Linked DNA regions of Homo sapiens: region 2 is linked to region 1. The links come from fine-mapping of genetic effects on gene expression. Tissue or cell type: whole blood. Region 1 holds a variant in brackets; the other region holds the start of a gene. All regions are shown on one strand. Distances are between the middles of the regions. Region 1 overlaps UBE2O (ubiquitin conjugating enzyme E2 O). Region 2 holds the start of UBE2O (ubiquitin conjugating enzyme E2 O).

What was found.
Region 2: it holds the start of UBE2O, and the variant in region 1 is fine-mapped to the expression of UBE2O in whole blood (TOPMed, PIP 0.98).

Annotation. Positions count from the first base shown.
Region 1 is chr17:76,421,338-76,433,535 of GRCh38, reverse strand. All of the region lies in intron 1 of UBE2O (ubiquitin conjugating enzyme E2 O), which reads left to right. It also overlaps the pseudogene RPL7P49. Among named protein-coding and RNA genes, the nearest start is that of UBE2O, 26 kb to the left of the region's middle. RefSeq lists enhancers at 10,000-10,499, 10,500-11,001. The variant C/T (reference allele first, on the strand shown) is at 5,325.
Region 2 is chr17:76,446,915-76,459,112 of GRCh38, reverse strand. UBE2O (ubiquitin conjugating enzyme E2 O) reads left to right here and starts at 5,961. Exons shown (of 18, transcript NM_022066.4): 1 at 5,961-6,388. The coding sequence starts at 5,972. It also overlaps a transcript of AANAT not described here. RefSeq lists an enhancer at 415-494 and silencers at 5,787-5,955, 5,750-6,289, 6,410-6,609.

The sequences.
Region 1 (12,198 bases):
ACTCAAACGGTTGTACGGTCATCACCGCTATCTAATTTTAGAACATTTTCATCACCCTAAAAAGAAACCTCATACCCATTAGGAGTCATACCATATTTCCCTGCACCCCTCCCAACTCCTGGAAGCCATGTTCTGTCTCTGTGGGTTTGCCTATTTTGGACATTTCATATAAATGGAAGCATACTAGATGTGGCCTTCGTGACTGATTTATTTAACGTGATGTTTTCAAGGTTCATCCATGTTGTAGCATGTATCAGTACTTCATTTGTTTTTATTGTTGAATAATATTCTATCATATGGATAGATCACATTTTGTGTATCCATTCATTAGTTGATGGACATTTGTTGTTGTGTCATTTTCACCTTTTGGCTATTCTGAATAATGCTGCTATAAGCATTCAAGTCCACGTTTTTGTGTGAATGTATATTTTCAATTCTCTTGGATATTATACCCAGGAGAGGAGTTGTTGGGTCGTATGGTAGGTAAATCTATGTTTAGCATTTTGAGCAACTGCCAAACTGCTTTCTGAAGCAACTGCACCATTTTACATACCCACCAGCAATGTTGGTGGGTTCCAGTTTCTCCACATGCTCACCAATGCTTGTGACTGTCACTTTGTTTATAGCCATCCTAGTGGGCATGCATGGGTATTGCATTGTGATTTGGCATGCATTCCTAGTGATGAGTGATGCTGAGCATCTTTTCATGTGCTTATTGGCCATGTGTATATCTTCTTTAGATAAATGTTTATTCAAATAAGTCCTGTGCTTATTTTTGAACTGAGTTTTCTGTTGGTCTGCTTATTACACCCTGCATTTGGATCTTCCCTCTCTCCCATGGAGTCTCGCAGGTGGGCTACCTCTTGTGGCAGGTGCCTGTCAGTGTCATTGGGATCTGTGCTAGCCATTTTGCATTATGTTGGGATTTAACCCCCTTTCCTATTTCAGTATGCTTAAGACCCTTAGAAACTGAAAGGGCTTTAAGTCCTAAGTCTTTCCAGGAACACAGATGTAATTGTTTTAAATCTGGGGCTCCACAAGCATCCTAGGATGAGAAAGGGGTTGCTAAATAGGTTTTCTTGGACAGTGGGCAAGCTTTCAAATATTTACCAGTCACATGTACCGTGGCATGCTGGGTATAAGTCTTTCTAAGGCGGAGACCATACAATCTATTTCTTTTGAGTCTCTCTCATAGTACAATTATAGTACTTCTTACACAGTGGGATGATGAAATATTTGTGGATTGACAGGAACATACTTTGATAACTGAGTCCTTTCCGTAGCAGTTTGACGGGTCTAAGACATGGTTGTGCCGAAATGTGCATGAGAGTGTCGGGTGTGTGTGCCTGGCGATAGGGGGCCTTGAGTTTCCAAAGGCTCTTGGCTGCTGCTGCCTCACAGATTCTCCATGCTGTGTGGCTGTCTGCTGAGGGGCACATGTGCTGCTATTTATGTTTGGTGACTTTCTCAGTGATTGTTTTTAGTTTAGCCTTTTAAGAATCTAATCTAATTTTGTGAGTGTGTAAAGTGTGGATTTATCCATGCCTGCTGCGTGACACTGACAGGGAGTGTCTTCCACCCTAAGCCTGGATCAGTTCTGACTGTCATGGTTAGATCACAGCAATCCATGGGACTTAAACTTTCTTTAACATTTGAAACAAAAAGCCATTTGTAGGAGCGGATGTGTGGCCCTTTCAGGTGTCTGGGGGAGTTTCTAATGGAGCTGTTCTTTTTAAAATTTTTTATTCTTAATTTTACTTTTTCATAGAGATGGAGTCTTGGCCCAGGCTGGTCCCAAACTCCTGGTTTCAAGCAGTCCCCCCCGCTGGGCTTCCCAGCTCCTGGGATTACAGGTGTGAGCCACAGTGTCTGGCCCTAATAGTCTTTCTTTTCCCTACCCACTATTTCACATCTCAGAATAGCAACATGAGGAGAGTCCATCAAAATGAATTGGTGAGTAGGTGAATGTCTGAACTAAGGATGGCTAATTTTTGAATTTGTGATTTCCTGGGTTTTGTTGACTTTTTTTTTGAGACAGAGCACCCTGTCGCCCAGGCTGGAGTGCGATCTCGGCTCACTGCAACCTGTGCCTCCCGGATTCAAGCAATTCTCCTGCCTCAGCCTCCCAAGTAGCTGGGATTACAGGCGTGCACCAGCACGCCCAGCTAATTTTTTTTTGTATCTTTAGTAGAGGCGGGATTTCACCATGTTGGCCAGGCTGCTCTTGAGCTCCTGACTGCAAGTGATCTACCCACCTCAGCCTCCCAAAGTGCTGGGATTACAGGCATGAGCCACCGTGGCCGGCTTTTGTTGACTTATTACTTCTCCTTCATCTTCAGATCTAGTTGTATATAAGTACTTTGCAAAACAAAGATTAAAAACCTCCGGTTGCCTCTTTTTTGGCTGGAACCATGGAGGGTGTCGAAGAGAAGCAGCAGCTTCCTGTTGTGCCAGAAACCCTTGGGAAAAAGCAAAGGAATTTCACAGAACTAAAGATCAAGCACCTGAATAAGAAGTTTGCCCAAAAGATGCTTCAAAAGGCAGGGAGGAAACTTATGCACGAAGAAGTGAAGCACTACCACAAGGAATCTAGGCAGATGTACAGAACTGAAATTTGAAAGGCTAGGATGGCAAGAAAAGCTGGCAACTTTTTTGTGCCTGCAGAACCCGAATTGGCATTTGTCATCAGGGTCAGAGGTATCAGTGGTGTGAGCCCAAAGGGCCAAAAGATGTTGCAGCTTCTTTGCCTTTGTCAGATCTTTAATGGAACCTTTGTGAAGTTCAGCAGACCTTCAGTTAACATGCTGAGGATTGTGAAACCATGTATTACAAGGGGAACCCAAATCTGAAATCAGTAAATAAACTCATCTACAAGCATGGCCGTGGCAAAATCAATAAGAAGCGAATTGCTTTGACAGATAACACTTTGATTGATCAGTCTCATGGTCAATATGGCATCATCTGCATCGAGGATCTGATTCATGAGCTCTATACTGTGGCCCTTCAAGTTATCCTCTCCACAAAGTGGAATGAAGAAAAAGACCACCCATTTTGTAGAAAATGGAGCTGCTGCCAACAGGGAGGGCCAGATCCACAGGCTTCTTAGAAGAATGAACTGCGGTGTCTACCGTGATTATTTTTCTAATCTGGTCAGTTAATAAATAGTACCTGCTCTCAAATTGAAAAAAAAAATCTTCGGTTAGCATACTTTAGGTAAACATGGTAGATTGAACATATTCATTTAAATCTACTTCCCCTAGAAACTCTGCTAAAATAACAGCAAAATAATTGTTTTTAGATGTATAAACCCACAAGGACACAGAATGGGAGAGAAAACAATAACAAAAGATCTCCAATTTCTAGAAGGTGGAAGGCAAACAGAAGACTGAGCAGAGCAGAGGCTGAAATGTTGGTACCTGCGGAAAAACACCAAGGAAAAGCACTTTAGAAAGCATCAGGAATTGGAGGCAATTGGTGGCACTCAAGGTGGGAATAAGGTTTGGGCCTAAAAGCAGAGGGATTATGATTAGTTGACAGTCTGTATAGGGAGGGATGAAACTTCCCAAGTCATCTCTTTGAATTCTGCAAACCAGAAAATACTCAATCCCCTTTGCTGGCGAGTGAGAGAGCAGAGGCTTATGCACCAGATTGAGGTACCTTGGGCAGAGCAAGGGGCAGGGTAACGCTGGACTGAAAGAGGGATTCATGAACGTCTGCACACTAAAAGAGCAAATCCCAGCCATGCCCCTGCCTGCTCCTGGAGTGCTGAGGCCAGGCATGAGGCATGGCATTGGATTCCAGTCTGGAAAAAATGAGCATGTCAGCAACAAGACCTGCCATTGCCAGTATGTAGTGGCTCCTCACAGCAGTGGCCAGCTTTCTACTCCATCTAATGTGGTCCTCACCTGTCCAGAGCCTTGCTTATGTTCACAGGGTTTCTATCATCTTTTTATCACCTCAACTTTTTTAACTTTTTTTTTTTTTTTTTTTTTTTGAGACAGAGTCTCACTCTGTCACCCAGGCTGGAGTACAGTGGTGTAATCTTGGCTCACTGCAACCTCTGCCTCCCAGGCTGAAGCACTTCTCCCACCTCAGCCTCCCAAGTAGCTGGGATTACAGCCATGCGCCACCACTCCTGGCTAATTTGTGTGTTTTTTGTCAAGATGGGGTTTTGCCATGTTGCCTAGGCAGGTTTCAAACTCCTGAGCTCAAGTGATCTGCCCACCTCAGCCTCACAAAGTGCTGGGATCACAGGCATGAGCCACCATCCCCAGCCCAACTTTTTATTTTGAAATAATTATAGATGCATAGGAAGTTGCAAACATAGTAGAGGGCTGGCTGGACGCGGTGGCTCATGCCTGTAATCCCAGCACTTTGGGAGGCCGAGGCGGGCAGATCACGAGGTCAGGAGTTCGAGACCAGCCTGGCCAACATGGTTAAACCCCGTCTCTACTAAAAATACAAAAATTAGCCGGGCATGGTGGCATGCGCCCGTAATCCCAGCTACTCGGGAGGCTGAGGCAGGAGAATTGCTTGAACCCAGGAGGCAGAGGTTGCAGTGAACCAAGATCATGCCACTGCACTCCAGCCTGGGCGACAGAGCAAGACTCCATCTCAAAAAAAAAAAAAAAAATAGTAGAGGGGTCCCCTCTACCCTTCATGCAGTTTCCCTTGATGGTCATGTCTTATATAATCACAGACAATATGAAAATCAGGGAATTGACATGGGTACACAATATGTGCATACAGTTTCACACCCTTTATCACATCTGTGGATTCATGTAACCACATGTAACAGCAGTCAAGATACACAACTCTTCCATCACCACAAAGATCTCTTATTGCCTCACTTTTAAATAGGAATGGATGCCAAGAATAACTGGATATGTTCAGAAAGCTTCCAGTATGGAAGGTAGAGGCCAGAGAAAGCAAAGAGAAAAATGTATCTCCGAGGAATCAGAGCTGATTCAGGTAGGAGAAAGCCTTAAAGCACATGGCAAATATACTCAGAAAGAAGAGCCAATATTTTATCCATGAAATAAAAAGTTACTATAAAAATCAGAACAAGAAAGAGTTCTCGGAAATTAAAACCATTACTTTTTCTTTGAAGTTGACGAAGGCTCCCAGGAAACAGATTAAAAACGTCTGACATCTAGGAAGTCTATAAAGAGAGAAAGGGAAAATTAAGGACCATAATGTATCAGAGAAACAAGAATTATTTCAGAATGGACAGTCATAAGTTTCAAAAATGGTAAATGGAAAATGTCCTGTGGCACATTGTGTGATTCCAGAGCACTGGGCATAAAGCTTCCGAAGAGCAAAAA[C/T]GGGTCACATACAAAAGACTGGGAATGAAGATGGATTGGATTTTTCAACCTCATTGGAAGCCAGAAGACAATGGGGTGGATTTCCTGTTTCAGTGACATGGTAGCTTGAGCTAAAGTTAGAACCGCTCCCATTACAATCACTTAAAATGCTATATAAGCTATAACAACAGAATAAGAAAGAAAAACAGAGAACCGAAAGCAAAGCAGGAATATAAAGCCAGAGCAGAGTAGGCAGCTCTGGGGAGGGGCAAGGTGGGTTCATTGGACCCTGAAATCGACCCTAACAATAATAGAGGTTTGGATTTGCATGAACACGTGAAGCATGGAGTTGAAACAGAAATCCCCTCAAAAGAGCCATTCCCAGGTAAAAGGGATGCAAGAAAATTTCCCCCATGGGATCAGAGAAATGTCAAGGGAGCTGATCATTGCCCCACACTCTGGATTGTGTTGGAGGAAGTCTTCTGTGAACAGTGGAAAACATCCAAGTTCTAAGTCTGTGTTTATAACATCTACATGTTGCAGGAATGCCCGAGCTGGCACCAGACCAGCCAGCAGACTGGCGATACCCCTGAAGCTTCTTGCTTGCAGAACAAAGGCAGAACTTTTCTAGAGTGACCCTTGCACAGTACAGGCCTTTTGGAATCCTAGGATGCCCACAGATGATGAGCTTGTTCTAGGAAATTACCAAGCATGTAGAAATTAGAACATGAGTCAGCGATCACAACAAACACAAGATTCTCAACATGAGAATTCAAATAATAGAAGAGATTATAATAGAAATGTCTAAAGTGATTGAAGGGCTAAAAGAAGAAATAGATGTCAAAGGAAAGAATAAGACAGAATACATCTTAAAAGGGATTATTTTTTAAAGAATCAAATAAAGCCTCTAGAGTGAAAACATTGAGTTAAAACCCCAGTGGAAATGTTAAACAGCAAATAGCATAAATTCTCAAGAGAGAACTATGGGAACTGGAAAACAGATCTGCAGAAGTTAGTTAGAATTCTGCAGAGATAAAAGAGATGCTTGTGAGGAAGAGACATTACAAACATGGATGGTGGTATGAGGGCCCAGTGGGAAAAATAGCATCCTAAAGGCAGCTTGAGAAGAAAGGCAGATTACTCCCCAGGTTCAACAGTGAAACTCAGGAAATGCCAAGTAGCAACAGTAGAGGCCATAAGGAAGTAAAATCTTCAGTGTGCTAAGGAAAATCAGTTGTTGGCTTAGTTTTCAGCAACCAGCTTAAATTATCGTTCAATAATGGGAACAAATAAGGACATTTTCACAGAAAAAAAAAAAAGTTGTATTTACTAAGAGACCTTCGCTGTACTTCGGGAAGAAGGAAGTAAGGAGAAAGGAGAAATGCGGACAGTAATGGTATCCAGAGGCGTTGGGAAGTGCAGGTAAATCTGAATAAGCATTCGCTTCTGAAAGTGATCGTCACTAATTTGGAGAGGATTAAAAACCAAAGTCCCAACAAAAAATGGAAATCAGTGAGGGGGTGATTTGAATGAACACACTCTTAAGTTCTTTGAACTGTTTGGGAAGTGTAGGAGGGATATTGATTGACTTCAAACTTTCTGAGTCAAGTAGACATGTTCCAATTTTAAGGGTAACCACCAAAAGAATAGAAATAGTGTTTAAAGCTTTCAAACTCACAGAGGGTAAAAATATGGAATTTTAAAACTAGGTCATTTGTCTAAAAGAAAGAGAGCAAAGAAAAAATATGGTAGCCAGAAAGCCCTAAAGGTAGTAGAAATAAATCCACATGGATCACAATGAAAGTAAACAATTATATGTGCCAGTTAAGACAGGTACTCAGACTGGAAGACAGCAGAGCAAATCCTGCAACATTCTGAGAGAATTCCGTATCCAGCCCAACTACGTCAAGTAGAGTAGAAAAAAGTTCTTTTGGCTGGGCATGGTGGTTCACGCCTGTAATCCCAGCACTTTGGGAAGCCAAGACAGGAGGATCGCTTGAGCCCCGTTCGAGACCAGCCTGGGAAACATGGCAAAACCCTGTCTCTACAAAAAAATACAAAAATTAGCCAAGTGTGGTGTTGTGCATCTGTAGTCCCAGCTACTCAGGAGGCTGAAGTAAGAGGATCATTTGAGCCCAGGAGGTTGAGGCTGCAGTGAACCATGATCACACCACTACACTCCAGCCTAGGTGACAGAGTGAGACCCTCCTTTTAGGCATGTAAGGGCTGGAAAAAAAGTGCCTCCTGTGAACCTCTTGTGGGGAGGAGATAGAAGGAGTTGTTCTTCACCAAAACCAGGGACTTTTCCCAGGATCCAGGAAACGGGATCTGACACAGGTGAGCGGCAGAGGAAAGTCTGAGTTAGAGAGACAGGATGGAATTCTGCAGGAGGGAGAGAGATCGACAAGAAAAAGACACAAAGCCCAAAGATACCTGATCGATAATTTGTAGGTAATTTGAAGATATTTAGAAAAGTTATGGATAGGTATTTGACAAAAGTATCAATATGTACATAGTTGTGTGAGGACACGGAACACCACTTGGTTCAGCTGTGAGCTCTGTCCTCCATCATAACACATTTAGATTTTTCAATTAATGCAGTGGAACTGTTGAAAGGATGGAGTACAGGCAAAGGGCTTCAGAGGGGAGGGTAAGAGTTAGGTCATCAGGTACCAAAACAGGACGTCAATAGATAATGTCTATAATAAGTTAGGAATTAGGGTGCAAGCATGTTGTTTATATGTATGGAGGTAAATATTCAAACAGCTAAAAAATTAAAAAGTATTTGCTTCAAAAGAGCACAGTTGAGAGGGTAAGATGGGGGACTGCCTGTTTTTGTTAAGCCTTTTAGTACTATGTTTTTTTTTTAACTTAGGCATGCATTGTTTTGATACAATTAAGCTAAACTATTATTTAAAAAAATACAATATGAGCCAAGTAGGTCCTTTAAAATTTTTTAGTGACCACATTTTTTTCTTTTACTTTTTTTTTTTTTTTTTTTTTTTTTGTCGAAAGGACCTTGAGAAGTGACCACATTTTAAAAACATTAAAAGAAACAGGTGAACCGGGTGCGGTGGCTCACGCCTGTAATCCCAGCACTTCAGGAGGCCCAGACGGGTGGATCACGAGGTCAGGAGATCGAGACCATCCTGGCTAACATGGTCAAATCCCGTCTCTACTAAAAATACAAAAAAGTTAGCTGGGCGTGGTGGCGGGTGCCTGTAGTCCCAGCTACTCGGGAGGCTGAGGCAGGAGAATGGCATGAACCTGGGAGGCGGAGCTTGCAGTGAGCTGAGATCGCGCCACTGCACTCCAGCCTGGGTGACAGGGTGAGGGCGAGACTCTGTCTCAAAAAAAAAAAATAAAAAATAAAAAAAAAAAAAGAAACAGGTGAAATTAATTTTGGAGGTAGAGGTGGATGGAGTCTTGCTCTGTTGCCCGGGCTGGAGTGCAGTGGCTCGATCATAGCTCATTGTAACCTCAAACACCTGGCTTAAGGGATCCTGCTGCCATTTTTTTATGTAGAGATAGGGTCTTACTCTGTTGCCCAGGCTGGTCTTGAACTCCTGGCCTCAAGCAATCCTCCCACCTTGGCTTCCCAAAGTGCTGGAATTACAGACATGAGCCACCTCACTCAGCCAGAAATTAATTTTAATGTTTTATTTAACTCAGTATATATCCAAGATACCATTTCAGAATGTAACGAATATAAAAAATACTAGTGGGCTGGGCACGGTGGTTCACGCCTGTAATCCCAGCACTTTGGGAGGCTGAGGTGGGCGAATCACGTGAGGTCAGGAGTTCGAGACCAGCCTGGCCAATATGGTGAAACCCTGTCTCTACAAAAATACAAAAAATTAGCAGAGTGTGGTGGCTCACACTTGTAATCCCAGCTACTGGGGAGGCTGAGACAGGAGAATCGCTTGAACCTGGGAGACAGAGGTTGCAGTGAGCCTAGGTTGTGCCATTGCACTCCAGGCTGGGCAACAAAAGTTAAATTCTGTCTCAAAAAAAAAAAAAAAAAAGGCCGGGCGCGGTGGCTCACGCCTGTAATCCCAGCACTTTGGGAGGCCGAGACGGACGGATCACAAGGTCAGGAGATCGAGACCATCCTGGCTAACATGGTGAAACCCCGTCTCTACTAAAAATACAAAAAAATTAGCTGGGCATGGTGGCGGGGGCCTGTAGTCCCAGCTACTCAGGAGGCTGAGGCAGGAGAACGGCGTGAACTTGGGAGGTGGAGCTTGCAGTGAGCCAAGATCGCGCCGCTGCACTAGCACTACAGCCTGGGTGACAGAGCGAGACTCCGTCTCAAAAAAAAAAAAAAAAAAAAAAAGAACCCAACCTGGAAGTAGCTGAGAGCCACCTGGTGTGAAGAGAGGAAGTCTCCTCTCCTGTGTTCTGGTTCCTTTGCGGACACTGTGCCGTAGGCCACCTCTATCAATTATGTCCTGGGCCTGAATCTTCAGGCTCTCCCTTGGCAGCTTCCTGCCTGACCTTATTTTTTATTTATTTATTTATTTATTTATTTATTTATTTTGAGATGGAGTGTCCCTCTGTCACCCAGGCTGGAGTGCAGTGTTGTGATCTCGGCTCACTGCAAGCTCCGCCTCCCAGGTTCAAGCGATTTTCCTGCCTCAGCCCCCCAAGTAGCTGGGACTATAGGTACGTGCCACCATGCCTGGCTAATTTTTTGTATTTTTAGTAGAGACTGGGTTTCACCATGTTAGCCAGGATGGTCTTGATCTTCTGACCTCATGATCCTCCCACCTCGGCCTCCCGAAGTGCTGGGATTACAGGCATGAGCCACCACGCCGGGCCCTCATTTTTATTTTTACTGTATTTATTTTTTAGAGATAGGGTCTTACTCTTGTCACCCAGGCTGGAGTGCATTGGCACAATCAGGGCTCACTGCAGCGTCGAATTCCTGGGCTTAAGCAATCCTCCCACCTCAGCCTCTTGAGTAGCTGGGGCTCCAGGTGCGTACCACCGTGCCCAGCTTGACCCCATTTTTAATGTCTTGAAAAGAGACCCTTCCTCAGCCCACATCCACCCCCTCACCTACCTCTTCCTCCTTTTCCTGCTCTTCAGCCGTAGTTCCTGAATGAGCTCCATGCTGTGATTCCTGTTTCCTGCATTGCCAGATGTTCTCCAGGCCCCGCCATTGGGGATTCTGCCCACGCCACCCATTGGGACTGCTGAGCCCAGGTCAGCAGGGACACTTCCCCGTGGCACTGGATCTCTCAGCAGCATCAGGCATTGCTAGCCACTCCTTTCTTGACACTTGTTCCCAATTCCCATGGCTTTTCCTTCAGCTGTCTCTAGTGACTCCTCAGAGGCACCCTTCTGTGTTCCAGGCACTTGCTGGGGTGCACTGGTGCCCAGTGCCTGCCCTTGTGTGGTTCACATTCTAACCCCCATGGGGCACACAGACTGCAGGTGTGGGAACAGTAAGTGCTGTGAAGAAAAATAAAGCAGGTGGATAGAGAATGAGGAGGAGCAATTCCAGACAGGGTGGCCAGAGAAGCCCTTCTGAGGAGGTGACATCTGAGCAGAAACTTGGGTGCAGCTATCTGGGGGAACATTTGAGCCATGGCTGTTCCCTGTGGTGGCCACACCTCCCCAAGCCTGGCGTGCCTCGGCTTCATTGCAGATGGAACCTCCGTCCTGCTCGGACACCTGCAGGACTGTCTCGTGTTCCAGATGTTTCATTGGCATCTGGCACAGCGTCTGCCCACCCAGTGGTTATTCAGTTTGCTGAATGGGCGAGGGAACAACTGAATGGATGGTCTACAGCATATGATGAACGGGAGGAAGAGGCCACTGGGTGCCCAGACCTTATGACAGAGCAGGTTGTGTCTGTGTCAAGCCCTTGCTGGAGGAGAGATGGGACTTGAGCTCAGCCTGGGAAAAGCCAGGTTAAAGTGAGCCGCCCTTTGCCCATGCCCTCTCCCCGTGTTGTTCATTTAGGTCGTGCTTCCACACATCATCTTCCCTTTCAGGACCACTCAGGCTGTGAATGAGTGGAGTGACTGAAATAGTTGGGAGCCATTGAGGAAAAGCCGGAGAGAGAGGCCACGAGAACTAGCATTTTGGGGTTACTTAGCACACGTCCCATTACTTATCACACATAGAGGTCTCAAAAACATCACCACAGGCCTGCCTGACCCTCCTGTGGCTTGGTTGTCCCTTAAAGGAAGGACACAGCAGATCCTTTGAGACATCTCCATCTTCCCATTTTCCTCCACCTGGGATTTGTGGTCCTTGAGCACTCTGGATGCAGATCCATTGGAGAGGGGATGGGTCCTCAGATGCAGTCTGGTGGCGTCATCTTGTCTTTTCCAGACTCCTGGCCAGCGACTTGTTGACTTCCTCCTGGGACCCAGTGACTGAGGGAAATAGAGCCAGCCAGGATGGGAGAAATGGGAAGCACGTGGCATTTACTCCATGAAAGAAAGGCCACAAGCCCTTCTCAGCCAGCAGTCCCAAGGCATCAGTTACCAGTTGTAATGGATCTCAAATGGTGCTAATTACTCCATCCCTGGGAAAATAGAAAATAGTCACTCAGGGCCGGGCGTGGTGGCTCACGCCTGTAATCCTAGCACCTTGGGAGGCCAAGGTGGGCGGATCACCTGAGGTCGGAAGTTCAAGACCAGCCTGACCAACATGGAGAAACCCCATCTCTACTAAAAATACAAAATTAGTTGGGCGTGGTGGCACATGCCTGTAATCCCAGCTACTTGTGAGGCTGAGGCAGGACAATCGCTTGAACCGGGGAAGCAGGCTATGGTGTGCCGAGATCACGCCATTGCACTCCAGCCTGGGCAACAAGAGCGAAACTCCGTCTCAAAAAAAAAAAGACAAAAGAAAATAGTCACTCAAATTATGTTCCATG
Region 2 (12,198 bases), 26 kb before region 1:
GGCCAAGGGCCAGCTGGGCTGGGTCCTGATCCTGACTGTACTGCAGAGTGACCTTGGGCAAGTCCCACAGTTTTCCCAGGGCACCTGTGCAAGGAGCAGGTGAGGCTCCAGGAATGAGAAGGGCCGTTTTAACTCCAAAAGCCTTGAGCGGCATTCAGCTGGAGCCTCGGAGGCATTTCTTCAGCCAGCCACATGAGGGTGTGGGGGGTTTCCCAAGGCAGCTCACCTCCCACCCCACCCCCCAGCTGAAGTCCCCAGTGCCTAAGGCACCCTAGCCTTCCCAAACACCTGCTCCAGGGTGGAAGGAGCTCTTTGGGCCAGGCTGAAATCGCTTGCACAGCAATGGAGAGGCCAAGCAGGCTCCCGCAGAGGGCAGTGTTGGGCCTGAGCATACTTTGTGGGTCCAGAGAGGTGCTCCAGTGGCTGGTTAAGATAGGGACGAGACAGGGCCTGCTTCCCTGAGACCAGTTCACTCTGCTGCTGGCTCTGCCGCCTCCTGCACACCACCCACCCCACTTAGCAAGGGGAGAGGCCAGACCAGCTCAGTTTCTGGAAGCACATTTATAAATAAGTGAAATCCTCCCAAGAAATAGCTCTATTCCCCACGAAAGGCTGGGAGATGGGGCCATGATAAGAGAGGGTTTCTTCATTAGGGAATCAAGTTTTTTTCCTCCTTCCTACACCTCAACAATGACAAAAATAAAAACTAAGCAGCGGCTTCCATCCACACTTACCCTGCTAGCCAGCCTGAGTGTATGGAGACCGTGGCTGGGGGCTCAGGGTCTGGGAAGGAGTCAAGCCTCAAACCTTATCCAGAGCATCTTGGGTCTGAGTGAGGTCCATAAAAGACACCATCGGATGGGTAGGAATTTACTGAGTCTCATTCTCTAAAGCAGCTCAGATGCAGTTGAAACTGGGGGCACTTGAAAGGATTTGGAGCAGCCAAAGAGGGCAGCTCTGTCCCAGCTTCTTCAACTTTTGGTTGTTGGAAAAAGGATAGGAAACTGACAGAATGGAGGTACAGGTTCTCAGGCCTTTGATATCCGCTAACATGATAATTTTCTTTTTTTCTTTTTCAAGACGGAGTCTTGCTCTATCTCCCAGGCTGAAGTGCAGTGGCACAATCTCAGCTCACTGCAGCCTCCGCCTCCCGGGTTCAAGTGATTCTCCAGCCTCAGCCTCCTGAGTAGCTGGGATTTCAGGCGCCCGCCACCAAGCCTGGCTAATTTTTGTATATTTAGTAGAGATATGGTTTTGCCATGTTGGCCAGGTCTCAAGCTCCTGACCTCAGGTGATCCACCCACCTTGGCCTCCCAAAATGCTGGGATTACAGGCGTGAGCCACTGTATGGGCCTAGCCTAATACGACACATTATTGAGCTCCATCCCTATGCCAGGTACTGTCCTAGGCACCAGGGTTACACACACAAATACAACATGGTCCACATGCTTAAGGGTTTAGTCTAGTGAGGGAGAGATCAGCATGTAAAATCAAGGAGTCTTACCTCCAACCTGGCAGTATCCTGATAATCTATGTAAAGCACTTAGTAGAGTATCTGGCATGAAGTTACAGCTCAATAAGTGATAGCTATTATTAGCCATTATTACAAGAAGCCGCAGAATAAACACAACACGTCTTCCAGGAGTGCCGATATTACTCAATGATTAGGGAGGAAAGGGCATTAGTTTTTACATTAAAACAACAAACATAGGCATACTCTGGAGTACAATGCAAAACTCACTTGATTTTTTGACAACAAAAGCAGATTTGAGGCCGGGTGCGGTGGCTTATGCCTGTAATCCCAACACTTTGGGAGGGCAAGGCGGGTGGATCATTTGAGGTCAGGAGTTCGAGACCAGCCTGGCCAACATGGTAAACCCCGTCTCTACTAAAAATACAAAAATTAGCCAGCCGTGGTGGTGGGCGCCTGTAATCCCAGCTACTCAGGAGGCTGAGGCAGGAGAATCGCTGGAACCTGGGAGACGGAGGTTGCAGTGAGTCAAGATCACGCTACTGCACTCCAGCATGGGCGACAGAGTGAGACCCTGCCATGAAACAAAAAGCAGATTTGAGGTCTGCACTGCCTTATCCCGCCGTGGGACACATAGACACATGGACTCCCCTGTGCAATCAGGAGTTCTTCTGAGGGAAGCCTAAAGAAATAGCATAACTACAAAAGCCCCTGCCCTTAGAGTGGGGAAACTCCTCAGGTTACTACCTGTTACCTTAGGCGCCAAATTCCTTGGGCCCTATTTCTTCATTGGTAAAATGAGGTTAAAAACTCTCTATATCCAAGATTGTGATAACAGACAAGATAATGTGCTTGGAAGTACCTGGTACAATGCCTGGTCAATAATATGTGCTTAATAAATGCTATGTTATCAGGGGGCAAGAAAACAGGGCTGAAAGGGTCATGGGAGGCAGAACAGAAGCTACTATGTTACTGCTGTTTAATCTCCCAGGTCTCTACAGGAGAGGGAGTAGGGACCTGCGTCCTTACAGCAGTGATTCCAGATGGTCATTTGGCATTGTGTTCTGGGATGGGAAGGCCATGGTTTGAGAACCCAGCCTTGCCCCAAAATCATATCCTAACTCCCCCTTCAGCTGATTCAGCCCATTTGTTCTATATCTTAGTAGATAAATTTTCTAAGATTTGGGTCCATTGACAACCACCCTGATCCCAATATTACATCAATACTCTATTAGTACTTGGCCTAAGACATCTTAAGTACTTAGGCTGCCATCTGTTTTGTGCATGTTCTTTTTTTTTTTTTTTTTCCTGAGATGGAGTTTTGCTCTTGTTGCCCATGCTGGAGTTCAATGGCTCGATCTTGGCTCACCACAACCTCCACCTCCCGGGTTCAAGTGATTCTCCTGCCTCAGCCTCCTGAGTAGCTGGGATTACAGGCATGGGCTACCATGCCTGGCTAATTTTGTATTTTTAGTAGAGATGGGGTTTCTCCATGTTGGTTAGGCTGGTCTTGAACTCCTCACCTCAAGTGATCCGCCTGCCTCAGCCTCCCAAAGTGCTGGGATTACAGGCGTGAGCCACCGTGCCCGACCTTGTGCATGTTCTTTTAACTTTTCTCTCTCTTTTTTTGAGACGCAGTCTCGCTCTGTCGCCCAGGCTGGAGTGCAGTGATGTGTTCTTGGCTCACTGTAACCTCCTGCTCCCGGGTTCAAGCGATTCTCCTGCATCAGCCTCCCGAGTAGCTGGGACTACAAGCATGCGCCACTACACCTGGCTAATTTTGTGTTTTTAGCAGAGACGGGGTTTCACCATGTTGGCCAGGGTGCTCTTGAACTCCTGACTTCAAATGATCCATCTGCCTTGGCCTCCCAAAGTGCTGGGATTACAGATGTGAGCCACCACACCCAACCAACTTTTCTATGAACATAGTTCTGTATCTTCAGGATCCTGTAAACAACACAAAGAGCTGGGATTCTGCCTTCTTTGAAGAACCTAAATACTGTAATATCCAACTTACTAGTCTTTCGTTGATGATCGTGTAGAAAAATGTGGAAAAAATGATGTTGACTGAGAAAGGTTAGGGCCAGATCTTGTTTTCCTTAACAATCCATTTAAATCTGTCCTCTGAGAATGTATCTAAACCCTTTGAAACTTAGGTGACACATTAAATTAGAGTTAGTTTTTTTCTTTTGAGATAGAGTCTCACTCTGTCACCCAAGCTGGAGTGCAGTGGTGTGATCTAGGCTCACTGCAACCTCCAACCCCCAGGTTCAAGTGGTTCTCGTGTCTCAGCCTCCCAAGTAGCTGGAATTACAGGCGCCTGCCACCTTGCCCAGCTAATTTTGGATTTTTAGTAGACATGGGGTTTTGCCATGTTGGCCAGGCTAGTTTTGAACTCCTGACCTCAACTGATCCACCCACCTTGGCATCCCAAAGTGTTGGGATTTCAGGCGCAGTCAAAGTGTTGGGATTTCAGGCGTGAGCCACTGTGCCCGGCCTAGAGTTACTTTTTTTTGAGACGGAATCTCACTCTGTCGCCCAGGCTGGAGTGCAGCGGCGCGATCTAGGCTCACTACAACCTCCACTCCCCAGGTTCAAGTGATTCTCCTGCCTCAGCCTTCCGAGTAGCTGGGATTACAGGCGGCTGCCACCGCGCCCGGCTAATTTTTGTATTTTTAGTAGAGACAGGGTTTCACCATCTTGGCCAGGCTGGTCTTGAACTCCTGACCTCGGGTCTCCCACCCGCCTCGGTCTCCCAAAGTGCTGGGATTACAGGCAAGAGCCACCACATCCAGCCTTTTTTTTGTTTTTTGTTTTTTGAGACAGAGTCCTGCTCTGTTGCCAAGGCTGGAGTGTAGTGGCATGATCTCGGCTCACTGCAACTTCTGCCTCCCAGATTCAAGCAATTCTCCTGCCTCAGCCTCCCAAGTAGCTGGGACTACAGGTGCACACCACCACGCCCAGCTAATTTTTGTACTTTTAGTAGAGAAGGGATTTCGCCATGTTGGCCAGGGCGGTCTTGAACTCCTGACCTCAGGTGATCAGGTGATCCATCTGCTTCTGCCTCCCAAAGTGCTGGGATTACAGGCATGAGCCACCACGCCTGGCCCTAGAGTTACTTTTTATATTTTATTTATTTTTATTTATTTATTTTTTTGAGACAGAGTCTTGCTCTGTTGCCCAGGGTGGAGTGCAGTGGCGCGATCTGGGCTCACTGCAACCTCAGCCTCCCAGGTTCAAGCGATTTGCCTGCCTCAGCCTCCTGAGTAGCTGGGACTACAGCCATGTGCCACCACGCCCAGCTATTTTTTTTTTTTTTCCGTATTTTTAGTAGAGATGGGGTTTCGCCATGTTGGCCAGGATGGTCTCAATCTCTTGACCTCGTGATCCGCCCACCTCAGCCTCCCAAAGTACTGGGATGACAGGTGTGAGCTGCCGCGCCCGGCCTACTTTTTATATTTTAAAATGACAATATGGAGCAGACCATAACAGTTCTGCCAGTCTGGAATTTAGTCTAGGCAGGGAGTTTGGAAATAGTACAACAATGGTTAAGCTTATCGAAGGAGCTAAATGCCAGGCACTGTTCTACTTCACTTAATCCTCCAATTGCCCAATGAGATGAGTATTGCTATTATCATCCCTATTTCACAGATGAGCAAATTAAGATGAAAATAAGTTAATCAGTGTGCCTATTTTTATAGATTAGTAAGTGGCAGTGCCAAAAATTGGAATCCGTGGTCCCCACTCTTAGCTACCTTACTATACTACCTCTTGCCATTCATTCTTGGCTTCAGGGAGCTTTGAATTTATCTGCATGGATTTGTAGCCAAACCACTGGGACCACTGATCCTTTTGTTACCTTTCTCTGGGCCTCCTTCACCAGCTTCTGGGTCAACTTCTGAGGGGTCATGACGTTCGAACTGCTTGGAATTCCTGAATACAGTGCATTATACATATGCTCTACACGTATCTATTATAGCCTTACAAGTTGGAGTTGTTTGTTATCTATTTAATGTGTATTTGTTTTGTCTCCCCAACTAGACTGGAAACACCTAGAGGACAGGGACAGTATCTTTCTCTTTCTGCAATGCTCCCAGTGCCTGGGGGCTAGGCTAGGACGCCAAGGGAGCTCATTAAAAGTTGTTGACAGTCTCTCCACCATCCTGTGCCCCACCCCGACCACTCCCCTCTTCCTCGGTGGCCACTCCACTTCCTCCTCCCGGGTCCCCGCCCCTTCTCGCTCCCTTTAGTTGAATCCTCACTGGTCTCGCCCCTTCTTAGTGGATTCCATCCTGCCCCCGCCCCCCGCGGCATCTTCAGCGTCCCCTAGCGACGAGGCGGTGGCTCCTAGCAACTGCATCCCGGCTCCCTGACGACGGCGCCACGCAGGGACACGTCAGCGCGCTATGGCCCCGCCCCCGGCGCCCGCTGGTCCCGCCTCCCCGCGCCTCGTTCGCCGCCGCTGTCGCCGCCGCCGCCCGAGACTCGCGCAGAGCAGTTATGGCGGATCCCGCAGCCCCCACGCCCGCAGCTCCCGCTCCAGCCCAGGCCCCGGCTCCAGCCCCGGAGGCAGTCCCGGCCCCAGCCGCAGCCCCCGTCCCGGCGCCGGCGCCCGCCTCGGACTCGGCCTCCGGGCCGTCCTCGGACTCCGGCCCAGAAGCCGGCTCGCAGCGCCTGCTGTTTTCTCACGACCTGGTGTCGGGCCGTTACCGTGGCTCCGTGCACTTCGGGCTGGTGCGCCTCATCCACGGCGAGGACTCGGACTCGGAGGGCGAGGAGGAGGGCCGCGGGAGCTCGGGGTGCTCCGAGGCCGGGGGCGCGGGCCACGAGGAGGGCCGGGCCAGCCCCCTGCGCCGCGGCTACGTGCGCGTCCAGTGGTACCCGGAGGGCGTCAAGCAGCATGTGAAGGAGACCAAGGTGCGGCGGGCGGGGGCTGGGCGGCGCGGGCGGCAGGGGGTCGGCGGCCGGGCCGAGGCCAGGGAAGGACGGCGTGCAGGGCCCTGCCCGGAGCGGTGCCACTGCAGTGGCCGACGCGGGAGGACAGCCCCAGTGGAGGGTACACTCCATGCAAAGTCATTGCAGCAGCTCTGGGCGCACACGCCAGCCAGGCACTGCTGGCCCGGGACCGGGCGGGCCCTGGGCTTCCCGACTTGAGGGGACTTCTAAGACATGTTATGCTGTGGTGTCGGCCTCGAGATTTAGAGACGTGGACCGACTCCCGTGGGGACTCAGGTTCTGGGGCGCGTTCGGCGTTACACCAGTGCGGCGTTTTGCTGACCCCCAAGGAGCTCGGTACTGCATTGTGCATCCAGAAATGAAGGCCGTGCCGGGTCCGTGCAGGGAGGGGTTGTGGGCATTCCAAAACAAAGATAGAGGTGAAAATCCCAGCCGAACCCAAGAAGTTCACTAGCTTACAGGCTGCATTATGGTGAAGCCACCCAGCCTCTTTTTGTTTTACCCTGCTGCCTCCTTTTAATTGCTGCAGGGAACTTTGTGAGTAAAATCATTAGCAATCAGAGCCCCGGTATGAATAGTACTTGGGGGGGAGGATTCTGACAGCTGCGACCGGGATTGATGACTCCTAAGTGCATATGGACTCCTTGAAAAAAATAATCCAGAACCCTGGGTAGAGGGGAGTCACCAATTTGGAAACCCGAAGGTTTTTTCTTGACCTGAAGCTGTTAAGCAGACATCTGACTCCCGTATGGTTTTTGGGGTGATGCTAGTGAGTATAGCAGTTTTACAAAACAAAGAGGCTTGTCATCATAAACCCGAAACCTTGAACCCGGGTTGGTTTGGTGGCTTGTTTTCCAGAATGTGAATTCCTATCAGTAATTGACACACACACACACACACACACACCCCCCTGTATCTCACACCCCTTCTTTCTCTCCTACTTCCCCTCCCCTTCAAGAAAACATTTCTAAGCAGGAATCAGGCCTACGCTGTTTTAGGTCCTTGGGAGGTTGAGAGGTCTGATTTCAGGGGAGGGCACTTTGGAAGTTGATCTGGGTTTCTCACACAGTGGGAGACAAAGACTACAGAGGAACGGGGTTTCATGTCAAACTACAAAGCGGGGTCTGTGACAACGGCTTGAGAAGGAAAAAGGCCCCACTCCAGAGAAGAGCACATGATCCATTTCCTAGAGGCAGAAGTGACTGCTGATACCAGCGGGGTCTTTTTGTTGGGGATGCACATACATCCACAGACACAAATCCACACACAGGACCCTGCTTCCCCTCAGAGAAATGTGAATCAGGCAACAGCTCTGAGACTTGGAAGGAAAATTATCAGTCCATTTACAAGAGTATTTGGAAAATATTACTTTTGTGCAACAGAATGCTTGTTAAAAATTACCCAGTATTGTGTCAGTAAAAGAGGGTTATTGCTGTATACTGTGTGACACCAGATGATTGCTGGTGTCTTTCTGTGAGTTTTTAAGAATGTTTTTCACCACCCATCTATTTGAGAGATTCGTGATTTTTGGAACGCAACTCATTTGACTGCAGCATCCTCTGTGTTGTGGCCTCCTGCCCTAGGACTCAGGGAGGTAGGCCCAGCTCACTACTGGGAGCCGCTATGTTTATCAGTTGTTGTTCCCGTCCGTCTTGACTTTGGTGGTTAACTTTGTTTGCAGTTATGCTCCGTTTGCCTCCTGCACTATGTGTAATTATACAGAGTTTGACTTGAAATACCTATTTTGGAGTTAAATCGAAAACAACGGCCGGGTGTGGTAGCTCATGCCTGTAATCCCAGCACTTGGGAGGCCGAGGCGGGCGGATCACCTGAGGTCAGGAGTTCGAGACCAGCCTGACCAACATGGAGAAACCCTGTCTCTACTAAAAATACAAAATTAGCTGGGCTTGGTGGCGCATGCCTGTAACCTGAGCTACTCGGGAGGCTGAGGCGGGAGAATTGCTTGAACCAGGGAGGCGGAGGTTGCGGTGAGCTGAGATGGCACCATTGCACTCCAACCTGGGCAGCAAGAGTTAAACTCTGTCTCAAAAGAAAAGAAAAAAAAAACAACAACTTTGAGGCACCACTTTGGATAGATTTTGCAGCTGGCCTCCTGTGACTTGCTTTGAATTTGTTGAAATCCGTTTTGTGGCTCGGTGGTGGTATTTTGTCATTGTAGCATCTGGGTTTAGCAAAAGCCAAGGGACGCAGAAATTCCAAGGAAGTGGTGGAATGGGATGCCCATTTATGGGTGGCAAGATATAGTTCTTTTAGGATTTAGAATAGGTTTGTTTTGGAGGGTGGAGTTTATACCTGATAGGTAGCTCTGTTACCATGAGCTATAGATACAGGTGACTGATTAGCTGAATGTCTCCTGGTCTGTTACTGACCACCAAGCAGGGTGGTAGGGTGGGTCCTGGGACCTTGCAGAACTGTGGCTTAGGATGATTTTTCTTCTCACCTCCTGCTCCTTATGAATTCCATCAAGGTGATAGTATGCCGTAAAGGAAAGACCATTAGACCAAGATTGACTAATCTAGTTATGAGATTTGAGAACCCAATTATTGACAAAATAATGTAGTGGCAGATTTTTTTTTTTTTTTGAGTTACTGGTTTGTTTATTATTTTTGGGATGGGGTCTCACTGTTACTCAGGTGTCCTTGAATTCCTGGTCTCACACAATCCTCCTGCCTCAGCCTCCCAGGTAGCTGGGACTACAGTAGTGATGGTTTTGAGAAACTTATTTTTTATTTATTTATGTTTTTGAGACGGAGTTTTGCTCTTGTTGCCCAGGCTGGAGTGCAATGGCGCCAGCTCGGCTCACCGCAACCTCTGCCTCCCGGGTTCAAGCGATTCTCCTACCTCAGCCTCCCGAGTAGCTGGGATTACAGGCATACGCCATCACGCCCGGCTAATTTTTTGTATTTTTAGTGGAGACGGGGTTTCTCCGTGGTGGCCAGGCTGTTCTTGAACTCCTGACCTCAGGTGATCCGCCCGCCTCGGCCTCCCAAAGTGCTGGGATTACAGGCAGGAGCCACCGCACCCGCCCGAAACTTATTTTTTTTAATAAGCTGCTACCTATTGAAAATTTTTGTGTGTGAGTTTCTTTTTTAAACAGAGTCTCTCTCTGTCACCCAGGCTGGAGTGCAGTGGCACGATCTCAGCTCATTACAACCTCAACTTCCCGGGTTCAAGTGATTCTTGTGCCTCAGCCTCCCGCATAGCTGGGATTATGGGCATGCGCCATCACACCCAGCTAATTTTTGTATTTTTAGTAGAGACGGCAGTTTGCCATTTTGGCCAGGCTGGTCTTGAACTTCTGGCCTCAAGTGATTCACCGGCCTTGGCCTCCCCAAGTGCTGGAATTACAGGCATAAGCCACAGTGCCTTGCCCCATTGAAATTTTTTAGTAGTATCTATTTAATGTGGAGTGTTTCATAGGGTGTGGCGTATTTTTGTAGTTTTCTCTGTAAATTGGAGGGCAATGAGTAAAGGCTTAATCTTAGTCTCAAGTTTTTAGTGAACAAATTTACAAAGAGAGATGAAGAGACTGGGCAGCAAGTCATGTCCTTTCCCTGCTGCCTTCATGAAAATAGCAACAGAAACAAAGTAAGTTCTTCCATGAAGCTATGGAATTTGTCGTGTTCCTGAGGCTTCCAGCCACCAAAATTAAGCCTCTTAAGGACTCAAAAGGAGCTAGTGGCCAGTGTCTCTTATATGCTTCTTCCTTTCTCCAGTCTTCTGACCTGTTCAGCGAGGTAGCCACTTGAAACTGTCCATCTGGCCATGGATCTCCTTAGAGGAGGCTTGCCCCTTCCCCATCACCAGTCATCCTTTGAATAAAATTTTGTAACAAAGCCAAATGCCAGCAGCCACTTAAACCTTCATGAGCACTGGCTAGACGTGGTGGGTCCTTCTGGTCTCCACCTGTCATGGTTGGGCAGAACAGCCCCCTGCGAGGTAAGGGAGCAGGACTGCTGTCTGTCAGTTCAAGTTCAGCCTTCGTTTCGGAGGCAAAGCGTTTATGCTTTAGCTTTCTTGTGCTTTTTCATCTCTTTTGCATTGTCTTTTGTTTTAAGTTGCCATGACATTCAGGGTTTCACCAGGTTTGAGATATAGTGCCTCTAAATTAGGGCTGTCTGTGATCACCCTGCTTTTATGAAGCTGTGTGTGTGAAACATCCCTGATGACAGGTCCCTCGGGAATTGGCTTTGCAGTTTATTTTTGGCTCCTACGCTGGCCAGCATTTCCATGGGGAAAGCTATTTAGGTGTAGCATCATGGCACGTGAAGTTTGTCTCACTTGTCTGGGTGCTGGGCCCATTAAAAGCAATTGTTCTTAGTGATGTAATGTGAAGAAGTTATATAAGGTTAACCAAGATGCAGGACTAAGTGAATCTAAATTGCGTTTTATTCAGATAGGATCACAGCACTTGTAGACTCTTAACAGCTGTTCTGTGATTTTATTCTTTGTCCCTTGATTTTTCCCCTTCTAGCCCTCGGGCCTCAGTGCCCTGATGGTGCTTCTGTCTGGCTGCTGCCTGACTCAAGGGTACTTTCCCCAGATGAAGGGTGTGTGTTTTGTACTGTGATTGGAAGCCAAAACCCTTGGGTGCTCTTCCTGGCTGTCACCTACTCTGAATGACCTTGACCAAGTCACTGCCTCATTTTCTCCCTCTGCAATGAAATAAGAGGTCTATCTTCCTAACCCCGATATGATCCTGCTCGGATGGAATAACCAGAAGTGTAGCTGGGTCAAGCCTAGGATGGCCACTTGGTTATTAGCAGACAGCATTCTGATGTCTGTCAGAGAGAGCCAGCCCTGTGCCTTCAGAAGATCACTTCCATGAGAAAGAGGGTGATGCTGCACCAAAGAGGCACCTTGGGAAGCAAAAGGTGCACGAGGCGGGTTGTGGGGAAGGTGGTTGTTTCAGGGGCATAGGAATTCCTAATGGCTCGTGTTGCTAGTGACCAGATGGATTATAGGTTTGACTTTATTAAACCTCTTCTAGAAATACTCATGAACTTCCTACCTCTGTTACTTTGTGAGAAATTCAGTAATGCACATTTAAAGTAACCCCGGCCGTCCTCCAGGAGGGGGATGGAATGAATCTGTATGTATGTATGTATGTTTCCAGAGTCTGAAAGGTCTCTTGAAATTCTCAAGACTGGTAATGAGATTATAAATTACAAAGATGATAGAGTATTGCTTTATATTTTAAGGTAATAAGAGCAGTCATGATCCAGGATACTGTTACTGTGTGCCAGGCACTCTTAGTGCTTTAGATGTTTTACTTCACGCTCACAACAACCCTGTGGTGCTATTATTAGCCCCATATTCCAGAGAAGGAAGCTGAGGAACAGAGAGGTTAAGTAAATTGCCCAGTGTCACACTTCTAAGTGGAGGAATCTGAATACAAATTGAACTAAATGTACTTTGTTCTCACCTGAGAATACTTAAGTTCAGGATTCAGAGATCATTACTATACGTGACCGAGTGCCCTGATCCAACATGAATCACAAGCCTTGTGGTTGGCATTAATCATCCCTTCTTTAAACAGTTGAAAGTCTTAGTGTAATAGGAGGTACTACAAGTGAGGAAGGAGAGAGGCACAGGATGTTGGGATAGGTGGAAGTTGTGCCAGTGGGCAGGCAGGAGGGAGGGAGATGATGGGTAGGGAGCAGGACGGGAGGAACACTGCATTCGCACTGGCGGTGTGCTTCTGCAGATTCCACTCTTTTCATTCCCTGACCCCTCAGTCATTCTCAAAA